Regions from separate parts of the Homo sapiens genome. Here region 2 is linked to region 1. The links come from fine-mapping of genetic effects on gene expression. A gene starts in region 1. The other region holds a variant in brackets. All regions are shown on one strand. Distances are between the middles of the regions.

Region 1 (12,671 bases):
ATCCTCCTACATTACTCTAATCAAATGATAATTAATTAAGTCATGAGGCATAGAAACAATTTGAGACACAAAATAAATAATGGTAATATTTGGGTTATAACACTTAAAATACAATAACTATTAATTGATAGTGATAAAACTAAGCCAAATAAACAAATAAATGTGGGAGAAGGGATAGTTTTTCCTTACTGAAGAATTTCCTTACTGTAGAATACTAATAAATGTAAAATTAATGAGAAAAAGAAAGTCACCATTAGGCAAACACCATAGTAGTAACTGTTACAGGCAAGATCCACTGAAGGATGCTAAACTTAGTGAGTAAAAGTTTGAGAAGAAACAGGACAGTCTCAAAGTACCTTCCCCAAGATATTTGTTAATTACAAAAGGAAAAATAATAACCCTACCTTGGAAAAACCTAGCAGAAGACACCTGACAGACATCACCTTAACGAAGTGCTCAAGGTCAATAAAGCACATCCATTTCATGCACCCCCACATGAGATACTAAGAAAGGCACAACATCACTTCTGAGGAGTTCTTTCCAAAAATGCATAACCTCAATCTAATCATGAGAAAATATCAAAGTCAAATTGAGGGACATTCTACAAAATACTGACAGTAGTCTTCATACTGTCCAGGTCATGAAAGACAAAGAAGGTAGAAGAAAGCATCAGATTGGAGGTCATTAAGGGTTAAGCGTAATAAGGGATCCTGGCTTGGATCCTAGAACAGAAAAAGGGCATTATTAGGAAAACTGATGAAATTAGATAAGACTTATAATTTAGATCAGGGATTGATTGACTCTGGCCTGCTGCTGCCTGTTTTTTAATTAAAGTTTTATTGGAAGACAGCCAAGATCATTCACTTATATTGTCTATGGCTGTTTTCTCCAATGGCAGAGCTGAGTAGTTAGGACAGAGACTGTAAGGCCTGCAAAGCCTAAAATATTTGCTATGCCAGGATCAGCATTAGGTGAGGCAAGCAGGACACCTAGGTCTAAGGAAATATCCTCTCTCTCTCCCTCTCCCTCTCTCTCTCTCTCTCTCTCTGTCTCTCTCAAATTTCTGTACATGCGCAACCCTAAATGTTAGTGCCTCCTTAAATTTTGCATCCTACACACCCTACTTGCCTCATTCTAGTCCTGACTCTGTCTATCTAGTCCTTTACAAAAAAATGTTTGCTGGACCATGGTAGGGTTAACTATAGCAATGTTAATTTTCTGATTTTTTGGTGGTTTGTGCTTGCGATCGGTGGCTGCGTCACTCTGGTAAAGGTGTGCAGTTTTGGGCCATGATCTCTGGGCTGGGATGATCCAGGCTCTCGGTAGAGGCAAGGGAGCCCAGCTATAGCCATGGCCAGTACAATGGTAGCAGTTGGACTGACCATTGCTGCTGCAGGATTTGCAGGCCATTATGTTTTGCAAGCCATGGAGCACATGGAGCCTCAAGTAAAGCAAGTTTTTCAAAGTCTATCAAAATCTGCCTTCAGTGGTGGCTATTACTGAGGTGAGTTTGAACCCAAAATGACAAAACAAGAAGCAGCATTAATGCTAGGGGTAAGCCCTACTGCCAAAAAAGGGAAAATAAGAGATGCTCATTGATAAATTATACTCTTAAATCATAGCAGCCAAAATCAGTGAAGCTAGAAATTTACTAGAAGGTCAAGCTAAAAAATGAAGTAAATGTATGATGAATTTTAAGTTCATTTTAGTTTATGTATATGAGTACCAAGCTTTTATAATAAAATGCCTCAGAGCTATAATTTTTTTTAATTTCTGATTTTGATCATTATACTTTCATTAGGTATGATGTTAACATAAAGGGAAGCTGGGTTAAGGGTATATAGGAACTCTGTTGTACTATTTTTACAACTTTTCTGTAAGTCAAAAATTATTGCAAAATAAAACATCTTAAAAATAATGCAAACTCAAGGATAGGATAAGTGTACTAAGTTCCAAGTGCACAGTAACACTGTGGGGGCCAAAACAACAGCCACAACCACAACCACCACAACTTAGCGCTCTGCACCAGGCACTGTTCAAAGTACTTTATATATCACGTATTATTTAATCCCCACAACTCTGTGAGGTGGGTACTATTTACTTCCATTTACAGGTTAGAAAACTGAGGAATAGAGGCCGGGCGCGGTGGCTCATGCCTGTAATCCCAACACTTTGGGAGGCCAAGGCGGCGGATCACTTGAGGTCAGGAGTTCAAGGCCAGCCTGGACAACATGGTGAAAGCTCATCTGTACAAAAATACAAAAATTAGCTGGGCATAGTGGCATGCACGTATAATCCCTGCTACTCAGGAGGCTGAAGCAGGAGAATCACTTGAACCCAGGAGGCTGCAGTGAGCTGAGATCCTGCCACTGCACTCCAGCCTGGGCAACACAGTGAGACTTCATCTCAAAGAAACAAAAATTTAAAAAAAAAATCCAATATAGGGAGAAAGGCTAACTGTCTTGGAATCAATCTTTGTTAAATTGTTTTGAAATGGGGAATATATTGTTTTCTATATAACATGGAAATCCTCCCATAATTTATATATGTCATTATGTAAACTAGAAAATTAGTCTCATTGCTTGTTTTCATGGTTGTATTTTCAATTTCTGAAAGATAATTTTAAAAACTCTCTGAGAAGGAAAAGCTTCAGGATTACTGCTCTAGAACCATTAGAAAATACATAATTTTACTTTAATCAATTTCTAGCACAAACTTTAAATTGTAAGAACTATATACCAAAGCAAAAGTATTATGTGGGTGTCTCAATTCAATTGTGATAAGTAAAATTAGAATATCAAATTGTTTTGAAATTATAACAGCTAAAATGCTTTCGGGCATGATGAGTTCTGGTTAATTTTAGAGCATCAAATGAAGGAATACCTGAAGTAAAGGCAATCTATCCAATACAAATCAAGTAAAGGAAATGTCATATTAGTCAAAAATGTCATAAAAATATTTTTGAAATGAGAAGCATACCTATAAAAAGAAGAGAAAAGCCAGGTGCGGTGGCTCACGTCTGTAATCCCAGTATTTTAGGAGGCCGAGGTAGGCAGATCACGAGGTCAAGAGATGAAGACCATCCTGGCCAACACGGTGAAACCCCGTCTCTACTAAAAATACAAAAATTAGCTAGGCATGGTGGCATGTGCCTGTAGTCCCAGCTACTCAGGAAGCTGAGGAAGGAGAATCACTTGAACCTGGGAGGCGGAGGTTGCAGTGACCTGAGATTGCACCACTGCACTCCAGCCCGGCAACAGAGTGAGACTCCATCTCAAAAAAACAAAAAAAAGAGAGAAAAAATGACACACACACACACACACACACACACACACATATATATAAAGAAGTGACAATATTATGACAAACATTTCATTAAAAATAAATAATTGTTATCTAGATATGATATGCCATTGACAGACCAGTAAAATACATCCAGTAAAAGGAATGTTGAGACAAGGAAGTATGACTCCACCTGGTAACCATATTTTGAATATTACACATTAACAACGAGATTATTTTCTGTAAGGCTGTCCAAAATGAATCCTCCTTCTATGTAGATTGAAAAGACAACAGCATAACTTCAAAAGACTGACTATGCAGCCATAAAAAAGAATGAGTTCATGTCCTTTGCAGGGACATGGATGAAGCTGGAAACCATCATTCTCAGCAAACTAACACAGGAACAGAAAACCAAACACCACATGTTCTCACTCATAAGTGGGAGATGAACAATGAGAGCACATGGACACAGGCAGGGGAACATCACACACCGGGGCCTGTCGGGGGGTGGGGGAGAAGGGGAGGGACAGCATTAGGACAAATACCTAATGTATGCGGGGCTTAAAACCTAGATGATGGGTTGATAGGTGCAGCAAACCACCCTGGCACATGTGTATCTATGTAACAAACCTGCACATTCTGCACAGGGATCCCAGAACTTAAAGTAAAATTGAAAAAAAAAAAAAAGGACTGACTAAATAGGTCACAAGATTATGGAGATATAATGACCCTTACTGTATAAGCTAGCATGTATTTTTTTAAATCCAAATTGTCAGCCTTATCAAGTTAAATTATATTCCTTTGATTTTAAATTATTCCTTCAAAAATTGTTTGATAATAGTATAATTTCAACTGTGAATAACACATGGTAAAAATGGTAATAAGCTTTCTCAATTGCTATAAGCAAATCACCACCAACATAAACAAGAATAACACATTCTTGAGAAGAAATATGCAACTAAAAGACCATTATAAGCTATTCTGGGGGCGGGGCAGTTTTTTTAATTTCAACGTGTCTAAGATAACTTCCTCAGCATGGCAAAAATAGAGATTTTAATCCTTTGTGTCCAGTAATGCATTCTATTCTTAAAACAAAACTAAGCACATTTTATTAATGAACTACTGCCTTTATGAAACAACAATAAATATAAAAACATTTTGCTTTACAATGTTAATTTTACTACTTAGATTTTAATAAAAATAAATAAAATAAAATACATTAATTATAAAACATAAATATATCCTAATAACATGATTTAATAATATATAATTTAATAATGAATATATTTTATATTAATCTCAACATTATTTGAAATATTGAAAAATTGGAAATAAAATATTTAACAATAAGAGAATAATTCAACTGTGGTAACACAGCAAAATAAAATATTTTGCAACCACTAAAAAGTGTACAAGGAAAGTTTAATAGCATGGAAAATTCCTTGTTATAATACGAATGGGTAAAAAGCAGGAATCAACAAGTACATATAATATCCTCCCAAACAGGTCTTTAAAGAATATACATAGAAAGAATAGTGGAGATTAATATGCCAAAATATTAATACTGTTATCCTTGGGAGAGAGAATTATAAATGATTTTTCCATAATTTAAAAAACCTCTACAACCTTTATAATTGTTTATTGAGAACTTTAAAAATTTTGTTTTCTTACAGATCCAGTGAACAGCTACAGAGTTTTCACATGTTTTGTTTCAGAAGCCACCCTTTCAAGAAGTAATTTCTGTCACACAATTTGAAATATTAACATAAAGGGATGCTTCTTTGTTTCTATTTTGACTGCTCACATAGGAGTACACATTTTAATAAAATATATTAAAATCCCTAATTTTATAAGAAATTTCATTTCACCTCAATTATGAGTCACCATAATAAAGGTATAGCTTATATATACTGTGAAACACTGCCATCAGAAATTACAATAAAATTTCAAATATTTATTTTTAATATACTATATTGTGAAACAGCATATGGCCATGTGCCAGAATACACATATTTAATCAGAAGCTTCCGTAAAATTCCCATAGGACACTATTCAAGTAAAATCCCAACATACATTTAAATTCTTAACTTTCTCTGAGCCAAAAGTGCTTTAAAACAACACAAGGTTAGGTTTGTAGGCAATGTGACTAAAAATTCAAAGTTAAAACCTTAAATAAAAACTTGAAATACTATTGTGAAAAAGAATACTGTTGTGATAAAAATATTATCCACTGTCTTACCGAAGATAGTTCATCACATCCCAGTAATGTGTAGTAATCTTCAGTATCTTCTGACCTGTAATTCAGTATTGCATCCATTTAGATGACTTAATCAGTCCTTCTTCCCTCGGAAACAAGAGGCACAGTGAGCTTCGAATTAACAGGAAGAAACTCTTTAAATCTGAATTAGAGCAGCATGTTCCACATAGCAAAAACTAGCTTTAAGACTGGCCACAGTCAATACACCAGATGTCATCCTAGACCTTTGTAAACTCTGCCTCTCATTGGCTGTTTACAGAGAAGAAAAGAACAGTCCACGTGTCTATTATTGCAGTGCTGCCTGGGATCTGTAGTTTGAGTTTATATAAGAGATGCATGTGAACCATTTGTCTTATGAGTTAATAAAGACTGTCTATTTTCAGAAACTTGCCACATTAGCCACTTCTCCATCTCCTATATATTTTTGTCTCTATCCTTTAAAAAAAAAAAAGAAAAAAAATGTGAAGCAATGTGGTAAAATCTTAGGATGTGTTAATAAGGATAATGGGAGCTTTTCTTAGTGTTTAAAATACTTAATTTTATTTTTTATTTGTTTATTTTCAGACAAGGTCTCACTCTGTTGCCCAGGCTGGAGTGCAGTGGTGCAGTCTCAGCTCACTGCAACCTCTGTCTCCCCAGCTCAAGCGATCCTCCCACCTCAGCCTCCCTAGTAGCTGGGACCACAGGCACATAGCACCATGTCCAGCTAATTTTTGGTTTTTGTTTTGTTATGTTTTAAGAGGAGGGGGTTTTGCCATGTTGCCCAGCCTGGTCTCGAACTCGTGAGCTCAAAGCGATCTGCCTGCTTCGGCCTCCCAACGTGCTGGGATTACAGGCATGATCCACAGCGCCCAGCCAATAACACAGTCTTGATTTTTATGGAGCTTACGCTCTGATGGAGGAAGACAGCTGAAAAACATGCAAAAAAAAAAAAAAAAAAAAAAAACACGATCATTTAAAATAGTGATTTGTAAGCCAGGCATGGTGGCCCACACCTGTAGTCCAGCTACTTGGGAGGCTGAGGCAGAAGAATCACTTGGACCCAGGAGGCAGAGGCTGTAGTGAGCCGAGATGGTGCCACTGCACTCCAGACTGCGCTACAGAGCAAGACTCCATCTCAAAAAATAAAAAAATAAAATAGTGATTTGTGCTTTAGAGAAAATAAAATAGGACAATGAGAAGAACTGTATGATAACTCGGGTCAGATGGCTGTGCTATTTCTCCTGGGTTGGTTCTCCAGACTCAGGAGTGTCTCTAGTCTGAGGTAGGTCCAGGCAATTTATGTTTCAGTTCATTTTGGCCCTAAGAAACACAGTTCAGGTCTGGGATTTAGAGAACAAGGTGAGTGGTCAGGGACACAACACTTTGACTGCCTTAACACTTTTTTTGTTTCATTTTTCAGAGAGACAGGGTCTCGCCATATTGCCCAGATTGGTCTTAAACCCCTGGACTCAAGTGATCCTCCCACTTTGGCCTCCCAAAGTGCTGCGATTACAGATGTGAGCCAACATGCCTGGCCCTTAACACTTTAAATTCCCCCACCTGAGGGGAAAAAATAGTTTTTCTTTTAGCCCACCTATATACATCTTTTTAAAGGTTTATTTCTGAAGAGAAGCAAGAAAAAGCACTGAAACACCATTTTTTACTAATCCTTCATTGTACATGCTGTCTTGCTAAAAGTTCTATATAGAATTTTAAGGCCAGGCACGGTGGCTCATGCCATAATCCCAGCACTGGGAGACCGAGGCGGGCGGATCACGAGGTCGGGGGTTCGAGACCAGCCTGACCAATGTGATGAAATCCTGTCTCTACTAAAAATACAAAAATTAGCCAAGCATGGTGGCACGCACCTGTAGTCCCAGCTACTCAGGATGCTGAGGCAGGAGAATTGCTTGAATCTGGGAGGCGGAGGTTGCAGCGAGCCGAGATCGTGCCACTGGACTCCAGCCTGGGTGACAGAGCCAGGGTCCATCTCAAAAAAAAAAAAAAAAATTAGATCACAATATCTTGATCTAAATCACTGATAAATGGCCTTTTAATGATGTGAAGTTGCCATGGTGGAAAGCAGTATGGTGGTTCCTCAAAAAATTAAACATAGAACTACCATGTGACCCCACAATTCCACTTCTGGGTAAATACACAAAAGAATTGAAAGCAGGAACTTGAAAAGATATTTATATACTCATGTTCATCAAGGCATTAGTCATAATAGCCAAAAAGTGGAGGCAATGCAAGTGTCCATCAACGGATGACTAAACAAATGGAATGTTAGGGCTGGGCATGGTGGCTCACACCTGTAATCCCAGAACTTTGGGAGGCCGAGGCAGGCAGATCACTTGAGGCCAGGAGTTCGAAACCAGCCTGGCCAACATGGCAAAACTTCATCTCTACTGAAAATACAAAAAAGTTAGCTGGGTGTGGTGGCACATGCCTGTAATTTCAGCTACTTGGGAGGCTGAGGCACGAGAATTGCTTGAACCCAGGAGGTGGAGGCTGCAATGAGCTGAGATCACACCACTGCACTCCAGCCTGGGTGACAGAGCACGACCTTGTCTAACACAAACAAACAAAAAAGTGTGGTATTGGCCAGTTGCAGTGGCTTATGCCTGTAATCCCAGCACTTTGAGAGACCAAGGCAGGAGGATTGTTTGAGCCCAGGAGTTCAAAACCAGCCTGCGCAACATAGTGAGACTCTGTCCTTATTTTTATATTAATAATATAATTTTTTTTTTGAGACAGAGTTTCACTCTTGTTGCCCAGGCTGGAGTGCAATGGTGTGATCTTGGCTCACCGCAACCTCCACCTGGGTTCAAGTGATTCTCCTGCCTCAGCCTCCTGAGTAGCTGGGATTACAGGCATGTGCCACCATGCCCGACTAATTTTGAATTTTTAGTAGAGATGGGGTTTCTCCATGTTGGTCAGGCTGGTTTCAAATTCCAGACTTCAGGTGATCCACCCGCCGTGGCCTCCCAAAGTGCTGGGATTAGAGGGGTGAGCCACTGTACCCGGCTTAAAAGTTTTTAAAGTGTGTGGTATCTTCCCCCTGGCTCTCTTACTCCTGTTCTCACCATGTAACATGTCTACTCCCACTTCACCTTCTGCCATAAGTAAAAGCTCCCTGAAGCCTACCCAGAAGCTGAACGGATGCTGGCTCCATGCTTCCACATTCTGCAGAACTGTGAGCCAATTAAACGTCTTTTCAGTATAAATTACCAAGTCTTAGGTATTCCTTCATAGCAATGCAAGAATGGCCTGACACAAAAAATTGGTACCAAAGAGTGGGGCCTTGCTATAAAGATACCTGACAAAGTGGGAGCAGCTTTGAAACTGGGTAATGGGCAGAGGCTGGAAGACTTTGGAGGGCTCACAAGAAGACAGGAAGATGAGGGAAAGTTTGGAACTCCTGCAAGACTGGTTAAATGGTTGTGACCAAAATGCTGACGGTGATATGGACAGTGAAGTCCAGGCTAATGAGGTCTCAGATGGAAATGAGGAACTTATTGAGAACTGGAATAAAGGTCACTCTTGTTATGCCTTACCAAGGAACAAAGCTATATGGTATTCATGCCCTAGGAATCTGTGGAAGTTTGAACTTAAGAGTGATGACTTAGGGTATCTGGCAGAAGAAATTTCTAGGCAGCAAAGTGTTCAAGAAGTGACCTGGCTGCTTCTAACAGCCTATCCTCAGATGCAGAAGCAAAGAAATGACTTAAAGTTGGAACTTATATTTAAAGGGAAAGCAGAATGTAAAAGTTTGGAAAATTTGCAACCTAGCCATGTGGTAGAAAACAAAAACCCATTTTCAGGGCAAGAATCTAAGCAGACTGCAGAGCAACCACTTGCTAAAGAGATTTGCATAAATGAAAGGGAGCCAGGTCAGAGGCTGATAGACAAGACAATGAGAAAAAAACCTCAAAGGCATTTCAGAGATCTAAGAGGCAGCCCCTCTCATCACAGGCCTAGAGGCCCAGGAGAAAAGAATGATTTAGGGGGCCAGGCTCAGGGTGCTGCTGCCCTGTACCACTATGGGAGGCTGCTTCCTGCATCCAGCCACTTCAGCCCCAGCCTCAGCTCAAAGGGGCCCAGGTACAGCTCAGGCCACAGCTCAGAAGGGTGCAGGCTGTAAGCCTTGGGTGGCTTCCATGTGGTGTTAAGCCTGCAGGTGTTCAGAATGCAAGAGTGAAGGAGGTTTGGCAGCTTCCTCCTAGATTTCAGAGAATATATAAGAAAGCCTGGGTACCCAAGAAGAAGCCTACCACAGGGACAGAGCCCTCACCAAGAGCCTCTACTAGGGCAGTGCAGAGGGGAAATGGGAGGTTGGAACTTTAACATAGTTTGGAAAGTCTCCCTGCCTGAATCTCATGTTGAATTGTAATCCTCAGTATTGGAGGTAAGGCCTGGTGGGAAGTGATCAGATCATGGGACTGGATTTCTCATGAATGGTTGAGCACCATCCTCTTGATGCTGTCCTCACAAAAATGAGTGACTTCTCTGAGATCTGGCTGTTCAAAAGTGTGTATCACTTCACTCTCTGTCTCTCTTGCTCCTGCTCCCACCATAGGAGATGCCTGCTCCCCCTTCACCTTCTGCTGTGATTGCAAGCTTCCTGAGGTATCCCCAAAAGCAGATGCCTGTGTTATGCTCCCTGTGCAGCCTGCAGAACCATAAGCCAATTAAATCTCTTTTCTTTATAAATTACCCAGTCCCAGGTATGTCTTTTCTTTTCTTTTCTTTTTTTTGAGACAGAGTCTCACTCTGTCGCCCATGCTGGAGTGCAATGGCACAATGTCAGCTCACTGCAACCTCTGCCTCCTGGGTTCGAGCAATTCTCTGCCTCAGCCTCCTGAGTAGCTGGGATTACAGGCGCCTGCCACCACACCTGGCTAATTTTTTGTATTTTTTAGTAGAGATGGGATTTCACCATCTTGGCCAGGCTGGTCTTGAACTCCTGACCTCGTGATCCACCCACCTTGGCCTCCCAAAGTGCTGGACTACAGGCATGAGCCACTGCACCCGGACTTAGGTATTTCTTTTTTCTTTTTTTTTTTTTTTGTGATGGAGTCTTGCTCTGTCACCCAGACTGGAGTGCGACGGCGCAGTCTTGGCTCACTGCAACCTCCACCCCCCGGGTTCAAGCGATTCTTCTGCCTCAGCCTCTCAAGTAGCTGGGACTACAGGCACAAGCAACCATGCCCAGCTAATTTTTGTATTTTTAGTAGGGACAAGGTTTCACCATACTGACCAGTCTGGTTTCAAACTCCTGACCTTGTGATCCGCCTGCCTCAGCCTCCCAAAGTGCTGGGATTACAGACATGAGCCACTGCACCTGGCCAGGTATTTCTTTATAAAAATGTGGGAATGGCCTAATACAAACTCCCACACAGAGTCCCCACTGGGGCACTGCCTAGTGAAGCTGTGGGAATAGGGCCCCCACCTTCCCGGCCCAGAGTGGTAGATCCACTGGCAGCTCACACCCTGCACCTGGAAAAGTCACAGAGTCACAGGCACTCAACTCCAACCCAGGAGAGCAGCCTGCAAAGCCACAAGGGCAGGGCTGCCCAAGGGATTGGGAGCCCACCCCTCACAGCAGTGTGCCAAGGACGTGAGACATGGAGTCAAGAATTATTTTGGATCTTTAAGATTTAATGAATGTCCTGCTGGGTTTCAGGCTTGCTTGGGACTTGTTGCTCCTTTCTTTTTTTTCCTTTTTTTTTTTTGAGGTGGAGTCTTGCTCTGTTGCCCAGACTGAAGTACAGTGGCACAATCTCGGCTCGCTGCAACCTGCACCTCCCAGGTTCAAGCTATTCCCCTGCCTCATCCTCCCTGAGTAGCTGGGATTACAGGCATGTGCCATCACACCCGGCTAATTTTTGTATTTTTAGTAGAGACGGGGTTTCACCATGTTGGCCAGGCTGGTTTCCAACTCCTGACGTCAGGTGATCCACCCTCCTCAGCCTCCCAAGGTGCTGGGATTACAAGCATGAGCCACAGCACCCGGCATGTTGCTCCTTTCTTTTAGCTGATTTCTTCCTTTTGGAAAGGGAATGTTTGCCCAATGCCTGTATCTCCATGTATCTTGGAAGTAAATAACTTGTCTTTTATTTTACAAGTTCATAGGTGGAAGGAACATGGCTTGAGTCTCAGATAAGACTTTGGACTTGGGACTTTTGAGTTAATGCTAGAATGAATTAAGACTTTGGGGAACTATGGGCAGGGGATAATTGTATTCAGCAATGTGAGAAGAATATGAGATTTGAGGGGTCAAGGTAGAATGATGCAGTTTAGATGTTGTCCCCTCTAAATCTCATGTTGAATCATAATCCCCAATGCTGGAGCTAGGGCCTGGTAGGAGGTGATGGGATCATGGAGCCAGATTTCTCATGAATGGTTTAGTACCATCCTCCTGGTGCTGTCCTCAGAATAGTGAGTGAATTCTCATAAGATCTGGCTGTTTAAAAGTGTGTGGTATGGCATCTTCCCCCTCACTCTCTTGTTCCTGTTCTTGCCATGTGACATTCCTGCTCCTGCTTTGCCTTCTGCCATGAGTAAAAGCTCTCTGAGGCCTCCCCAGTAGCCAAGCAGATGCTGGCTGCATGCTTGTACAGCCTTCAGGACCACGAGCCAATTAAAACTCTTTTCTTGGCCGAGTGTCACAGCTCATGCCTGTAGTTATAGCACTTTGGGAGGCTGAGGCAGGTGGATCACTTGAGCTCACGAGTTCGAGACCAGCCTGGGCAACACGGCAAAACCCCATCTCTACAAAAAATACAAAAATTAGCTGGGCATGGTGGCGTATGCCTGTAGTCCCAGCTATTCCAGAGGCCGAGGTGGGAGGATCACTTGAGCCCAGGAGCTCAAGGCTGCAGTGAGCCACAATCATGCCACTGCACCCCAGCCTGGGTGAGAGAGTGAGACCCTGTCTCAATGAAAAGTAAAAATATATATATATTCTTTATAAATTACCCAGGTTCAGGTATTCCCTCATAGCAATGCAAGTATGGCCTAAGACAATGTGATTTTTAGGAACTTTTTAACCCAGGAATTCATAGAAGCACTCACAAAATAAATGAAAAGCAGGAGAAAGGAGCAAAACACATAAGCTATCATACAGAGATGGAAATGTCCATTGCGT
Region 2 (8,000 bases), 24 kb before region 1:
AAAACTCAGCAATTCATGAGCAACTTGAGAAGTACATTTATTAGAGCTCATAAAATAGTAAGCAATAACAGGGAGTGTGTATACTGAAACAAACAGCCAAAGAGATTGAAAGAAATGTAGTCACAGGCTCTTCTGGCACAAATTCATTGCCTTTATTCTGATGAGCTTCTCTTCATGGGATTTACGGACACTGAATTATATCCAGACTCTGCTAACTTCTTGGTTTTCTCCCTCCTATCGCCTAATGACTCTTTAAGCTACTACATGAGTCTAATCCATGGGCATCCTGAGCTTCACAAATTCACGTCGCACCCAGCGAGAAACCCACCGTCTTCACTGAGTCATTCAAAGCTTCCCACTGCTGGAATGGCATCGACATCTGGCTCCTTCGCCAGTGGTCATAGCGGGCTCGACTCTCTTCATTGGTCAGAATCTCCTTTGCCTTCTGCAGTTTCTGAAAAGTCTCCACTGGAAAACAAATCAAGAAATGAGCACTTCTCTCTCGGAGAGGATATTTTAAACTCCAAAACTATCCAACTGCTCTTACTAAAACCATGACTGCCACTTAATAGCTATGTGACCTTGGGCCAATTTACCTCATTAAGCTTTTGTAAAGGGTATCATAAGGACAAGCAAGATCATGGATGTAAAGTGCTCGGCACAGTTTATCCACTCCCTGTATTGTGCCTCAGTCATGTGCCAGAGGCTACTCCCGGTGCTGATGACACAGATGTGAATAATAGACATTATTAGCAGGGGAAAGAAACATTTGTAAACATTGAAAAAATACTATTCCACCTTATAGGAAGAAAACTACCTTTTTTAGTGCTGGGTGTGAAACAGGGCAGTAATTAGGCAAGAGGGACAGTAAAACTGAAGACTATAAAGACTATAAAACTGAAGACTATAAAGACTATAAAGACATGACTGAGGCACAATACAGGGAGTGGATAAACTGTCCCAAGCACTTTACATCCATGATCTTGTTTGTCCTTATAAAGCAGGAAGGAGCACGGTGACTTAGAGGAAGTAGTAATTGCCAGTGTGGCTGGAGGACACAAGGCTAGGGAAAGAACGATGAGGGATGGGGCTGTAGAGTAGACAGACAATAGCTCAATCAACCAGGGCCTGAGATGTCATGTTAAGGATGCTGGCCTGCTTTTTGTCGTAAGAGAAACGGGAGGCTTTAAGTATAATAAATAACATGGTAGATGCTGGGACAAATGGTAGCTTGTCACTAATCTACTTGACCAGATGGTATATAATAGAAACCTTTTATGGCTCTGTTAGAAACACCTCCAAAGTCTCTTCTGCTCCTCAGTGAAGTAAAAACTTTCTGCAGAGCAGAATACAAGATTTATATACAGGCCGGGTGCAGTGGCTCAGGCCTGTAATCCCGGCACTTCGGGAGGACAAGGTGGGTGGATCACGAGGTCAGGAATTCAAGACCCAGCCTGGCCAAGATGGTGAAACCCCATCTCTGCTAAAAATACAAAAAAAAAAAAAAAAATAGCTGGGGGTGGTGGCAGGCGCCTGTATTCCCAGCTACTCGGGGGCTGAGGCAGAGAATTGCTTGAACCTGGGAGGCAGAGGTTGCAGTGAGCCGAGATTGTGCCACTGGACTCCAGCCTGGGCGACAGAGCGAGACTCCATCTCAAAAAAAAAAAACAAAAAAAAGTAGCCAGGCACGGTGGCCCAGGCCTGTAATCCCAGCTACTCAGGAGCCTGAGGCAGGAGAATCGTTGGAACCCGTGAGGCAGAGCTTACAGTGAGCCGAGTTTGCACCACTGCACTCCAGCCTGTCCGACAGAGCAAGACTCCATCTCAAAACAAACAAACAAAAATTCATATGTTGAATTCTTAACTCCCAAAATGATAGTATTAGGAGATGGGGCTTTTGAGATATGATTAGATCATGAGGGTGGAACCCTCACGAATGGAATCAGTGCCCTAATAAAAGAAACCCAGACAACTCGCTCACTCTGTTTCCCCCATGTGAAAACACAGCAAGAAGACAATTAGCTAGGCATGGCGGTGGGCGCCTGTAATCCCAGCTATTTGGGAGGCTGAGGCAGAAGAATCTCATGAATCTGGGAGGTAGAGGTTGCAGTGAGCCAAGATCACACCACTGCACTCCAGCCTAGATGACAGAGCGAGACTCCGTCTCCAAAAAATAAAAAATCAATATACAAATATCAGTGGTGTCTCTACACAGTAGCAATGAACAATCTGAAAATGAAATTAAGAAAATTCCATTTATAAGAGCATCAAGAGCCGGACCCAGTGGCTCATGCCTGTAATCCCAGCACTTTGGGAGTCCGAAGTGGGCGGATCACGAGGTCAGGAGTTCGAGACCAGTCTGGCCAACATGGTGAAACCCCGTCTCTACTAAAAATACAAAAAAAAAAAAAAATTAGTTGGGTGTGGTGGCAGGCGCCTGTAATCCCAGCTACTCAGTAGGCTGAGGCAGGAGAATCACTTGAACCTGGGAGGCGGAGGTTGCAGTGAGCTGAGACCATGTCATTACACTCCTGCCTGGGTGACAGAGCAAGACTCTGTCTCAAAAGAAAAAAAAAAAAGCTTCAAGAAGAATATAATATTTTTAAAAAATTGAACAAAAGAAGGAACTACACAATATTGTCAAAAGAAGCTAAAGAAGATCTAAATAAATGAAAAGACATCCCACGTTCATAAAGATTTACTATTGCTAAAATGATAATACCCCCCAAACTGATCTGCAGATTCAACATAATCTCTATCAAAATCCCAGTTGCCTTTTTTGCAGAAATTGACAATCTAGTCCTAAAATCTGTTTGCAAATACAAGGGACCCAGAATTGCCAAAAAAAAAAAAAACTCTTGAAAAAAATAAGAGCAAAGTTGGAGAATTCACACTTCTGAATTTCAAAACTTATACTACAAAGCTACAGTAGTGAAAACAGTGTGGTACTAACATAAGGATAGACATACTTATAAATGGAATAGAATTGAGAATCCAGAAACAAACCCTTACATTTACAGTCAATTGATTTCAACAAGAGTGCCAAGACAATTTAATGAAGAAAAAAAATAGTCTTTTCAACAAATGGTGCTAGGATAACTAAATATCAATATATAAAAAGCATGAATTTAGATTTCTACCTTAAGCTATAAACAAATATTGACTCAAATGGATCACAGATCCAAATGTAAGGGTTAAAACCATAAAAAACTGGGAAAAAAAAAACATAGGAATAAATCTTTGTGACCTCAGCTTAGGCAAGAGCTCCTTAGATATGACACCAAAAGCACAAGCAACAAAAGAAGAAATAGATAAATTGGACTACATCAAAATTAAAACTTTTGTGCCTCAAAGAATACCATGAAGAAAGTGAAATGACAAACCATGGAATGGGAAAAAATATCTGCAAATAATATATCTGATAAGGTACTTATATCTAGAATTTATAGAGAACATTTACAACTCAATAATAAGACAAATAACCCAAATGCAAAATGGACAAAGGGCTTGAATGAACATTTCTCCAAAGAAGATATACAAATAGCCAACAAGCACCTGAAAATATCCTGAACAGTATTAGTCCTTCAGGAAATACAAATCAAAACCATAGTGAGATACCACTTTATACCTACTAGGATGGCTAAAATTAAAGGATAATAATTGTCTAGAATGTGAAAAAATTGGAACTGTCACACATGACAGGTGGGAATGTAAAGTGGTATATAGTCACTTTGAAAAGTAGTTTGGCTGTTCTTCAAAAATATTAAGCAGAGTTGCCATATGACCCAACTATTATAATCCTAGGTATATATCCATGAGAAATGAAAACATATGTCCACACAAAAACCTGTATATGATAGCAGCATTACTCATAATAGCCAAAAGTGAAAATAACACAAATGTCCATCAACTGTGAATTGATAAACAAAATGTGGTATATCCACCTAAAAGAATTATCATCCAGCCATAAAAAGGAATGAAATGTTGATATGTGCTACAACATGAATGAGTCTTGAAAATATGCTAAATGAGGCTGGGCACGGTGGCTTACACCTGTAATCCCAGCACTTTGGGAGGCCAAGGTGGGCGGATCACCTGAGGTCAGGAGTTCAAGACCAGCCTGACCAACATAGAGAAACTCCATCTCTATTAAAAATTCAAAATTAGCTGGGCGTGGTGGTGCATGCCTGTAATCCCAGCTACTTGGGAGGCTGAGGCAGGAGAATCGCTTGAACCCAGGAGGTGGAGGTTTCGGTGAGCCGTGATCACACCATTGCGCTCCAGCCTGGGCAACAAGAACAATACTTCGTCTCAAAAAAAAAAAAAAAAAAAGAAAAGAAAAAAAAAGATGGGGCTATTGAAAGCTACAGGAAAACAAATGAACAAATAAAAGTATCTTGCCATAGCAGCTTGGTCCAGCGAGAGCAAATCTTCCTGTTGCTGACGACAATGTAAATGTCCCATTGTATAAATGATACGTCACTTTTTCCAACAGGAATAAAAAGCTTATTAAATTACCACCAAGGATGCACATGCCAGTTGCTACTCATGTGGGGCTTGTAAAGATTTATGTATTTATCTGTGAGTCACCTTCTCTTTTCACATCATTGTTGGCTTCGCTTTCTAGAA[T/C]TCCCAGAATGAAAGAAGCTGCTTAGAATTATTCTGATGTAAGTCCCTCAACAACAGTTGATAAGCAGAAAGAAAAAAGAAACCTTATCTTTCCTATAATGTGACCTTTCTCTTGTTCCATCCACTTCACCACATTTAACAAAAGTGAGTTTGGGTTTATATTTTTCCATTAATGTAGCAACTAATCAAATGAGCCACACAAGGTAAACACTTGCCAGTTCTGGGAAGAGAGATCTCATTTTGTAAGCTTATAGGAGCAAATGATGCTGGAAGTCTTGCGAGACATTCTGATTTAACTCCTGGGTCTACCTTCAAAATATAGAGGTTATTTTAAATTCATATTTTGCAATAGAATTTGTATTACAACAGTCACATTTTAAATGTATGCCATTTACAATTACTTAAGAAATAATAATATGATGTCAAAATATGCTTTGAAAAAATCTGGAAGAAAATATACCAACTGTTAATAGTGGTTCTCTATCAGGGAAAGATAAAAGCAAACTTTTTCTTCCAACATTATTTATTAATTATGTTATTTTTATTATATGGGGAAAAACAGTAAAGACTATAAAGTAAAAAAAAAATTGAGACATTAAAAGATGTTAGTTAACAAAGGACAAATTGCTCCCCTTCTTCTAATATCCAAATGTCCTTGAAGTTTGCACATCAGTAACAAAAATACCATTCCACAGGTTCTTAGTCTGAAGTTTACTTTCTTTTTTTTTTTTTTTTTTTTGAGGCAGAGTCTCTCTCTATAGCCCAGGCTGGAGCACTGTGACACAACCTCAGCTCACTGCAACCACCGCCTCCTGGGTTCAAGTGATTTTCCTGCCTCAGCCTCCACAGTAGCTGGGATTACAGGCACCCGCCACCACACTCAGCTAATTTTTTGTACTTTTAGTAGAGACGAGGTTTCACCATGTTGGCTAGGCTTGTCTCAAACTCCTGACCTCATGTGATCTGCCCACCTTGGCCTCCCAAAGTGCTGGGATTATAGGTGTGAGCCATCACACCGGCCTTAAGTCTACTTTCTTCATGGCCATGGAGAAGTTAATATAGTGCTAATCTGAAACAGTTACTGTCACCCACACAGAGCGCTGGCATGAGCACCAGCCAGGAGCTCTGGGGCTCAGTGACACTATTTTTATAGCAAAGTCAGTCCTGTCTGCAGCACCCACATCTGGAGAGGGGAAGGGATTTCTGGTGGCCTTAGATTTACTTTTTTTTTTTTCAGGGAATAAAAGAATGATCTAATCATTACTTATAAAAAGAGAAAACTATCCCATCACGTTAAATGTTTACCTTGGGCTGCTACATAAAACAAGGAAAGACAATCCACTGAATTAAAATTGCCAGCATCCATTAAGCACTTTCCACATGCAGGACTCCTCATTTAATCTTCACAGCAGATGCATGAAGTAATATACTACTAGTCTACCTGTTTTACCTACGAGAATGCTGAGGCTTGGAGAGATTGCCCAAGATCAACTAGACTGTAAGTGGAATGGGAGCAATCCAGACAAACAAGCCTGTGTTTATATCCACTACTCCATCATGCTACCACATCAGTAATTTCAATGGCAACAGTTGAGACTATATTTAGTGGACGAAAAAGGTATAGATATAAGTTTAATTTATCCTACCCAAAGTTCCTCTACTGTCTAGCTTTTCACCTTAATTAGATACATTTCAAAATCTTTCCATTACATTCTGAATTTCTGTCAAGCTAAACTTCAGTATCCAAGTGAATTTTTAAAGATATTTTGAGGCTGGGTGCAGTAGCTCACTCCTGTAATCCCAGCACTTTGGGAGGCCGAGGCAGGTGGATCACTTGAGGTCAGGAGTTTGAGACCATCCTGGCCAACATGGTGAAACCCCGTTTCCACTAAAAATAAAAAAAATCAGCTGGGCGTGGTGGCACACACTTATAGCTCCGGCTACTCAAGAGGCTGAGGCAAGAGAGTCACTTAAACCCAGGAGACAGAAGTTGCAGTGAGCTGAGATTGTGCCACTGCACTCCAGTTCGGGCGATAGAGCAAGACTCCATCCCCCCAAAAAAATAAAAAATAAAAAAAGAGATTTTGAAATAGTCTGGCCAGGCACAGCAGCTTATCCCTGTAATCCCAGCACTTTGGGAGGCCAAGGAAGGCAGACTACTTGAGTCCAGGAGTTTGAGACCAGCCTGGGCAACATGGCAAAACCCCGTCTGTACTAAAAATACAAAAAAATTACTCAGGTGTGGTGGCGCACATGTGTGGTCCCAGCTACTTGGGAGGCTGAGGTGGGAGAACTGCTTGAGCCTGGGAGGTTGAGGCCAGCAGTGAACCAAGATCGCACCACTGCACTCCAGCCTGGGAGACAGAGCGAGATCCTGTCTCATATATATATTTGAAATATTTTCATCAGTAACCTTAATCATCCAAGTGTGTAAAGATCCACATAAACGTTCAGAAAGTTGTATTAATGAAAACTGAGTAAACGGATGCTTAAATAGATTAAAAAACAACCTCTACCCAAAGGTTGAATCATATATCAAATGCATGCCTGCCTAGAGAAGATATTGATGTCTGTGTACCTTTTCATTTTAAACAATATTTACACAGTCCACTGTTTCTCTGAACAAGACGCCTTGAGGCAGCCCATACATGAAAACCCCCATCACTATGGCAACTAGAAATGGCAATAATTACACAGTGATTCATCATGTATCCTGAATAAAAATTGTTTGTCAGGGACAGAGAAACAACTCACAGTCATGCTTCACTGAAAAGAACCCAGTTAAAGAATAACCTGGGGTGGTGGTGGTTTTTAAGTGTTTATCAAATTTTTATAATTTTTTTTTTTTTGAGACACAATTTCACTCTTGCTACCCAGGCTGGAGTGCAGTGGCGCGATCTCGGCTCACTGCAACATCTGCTCCCGGGTTCATGCGATTCTCCTGTCTCAGCCTCCCAAGTAGCTGGGATTACAGGCATGTGCCACCACGCCCGGCTAATTTTGTATTTTTAGTAAAGACAGAGTTTCACCATGTTGGTCAGGCTGGTCTCAAGTTCCTGACCTCAGGTGAACCACCCACCTTGGCCTCCCAAAGTGCTGGGATTACAGGCATTAGCCACCGAGCCCGATCTAAATTTTTATAATTTTATGCTAGGACACCTATCTTAATATTAACTCCAGTTCAGACAGGTAGTTAATATGAATCCTAAAGAAATGTTTGGGCCAGGGGTCGGGAGCGGTGGCTCACGCCTGTAATCCCAGGACTCTGGGAGACCGAGGCGGGCGGATCACGAGGTCAGGAGATTGAGACCACCCTAGCTAACAAGGTGAAACCCCGTCTCTAGTAAAAATACAAAAAATTAGCCGGGCGC

Alleles and levels. Alleles are on the strand shown, and positions count from the first base shown. SD is a standard deviation of normalised expression in the study named.
In carriers of allele C in region 2, the expression in adrenal gland of the gene that starts at base 5,776 in region 1 tends to be lower than with T alone (large effect, 0.88 SD a copy in GTEx).

The links. PIP is the estimated chance that this variant, and not a neighbour inherited with it, causes the effect.
Region 2: its variant is fine-mapped to the expression of DNAJC12 in adrenal gland (GTEx, PIP 0.99).

The regions. Positions count from the first base shown.
Region 1 is chr10:67,832,413-67,845,083 of GRCh38, forward strand. It overlaps DNAJC12 (DnaJ heat shock protein family (Hsp40) member C12), which reads right to left and starts at 5,776. Exons shown (of 5, transcript NM_021800.3): 1 at 5,522-5,776. The coding sequence starts at 5,599. It also overlaps the pseudogene DNAJC19P1.
Region 2 is chr10:67,811,196-67,819,195 of GRCh38, forward strand. It overlaps DNAJC12 (DnaJ heat shock protein family (Hsp40) member C12), which reads right to left. Exons shown (of 5, transcript NM_021800.3): 3 at 329-468. Among named protein-coding and RNA genes, the nearest start is that of DNAJC12, 23 kb to the right of the region's middle. RefSeq lists an enhancer at 7,690-8,000. The variant T/C (reference allele first, on the strand shown) is at 4,630.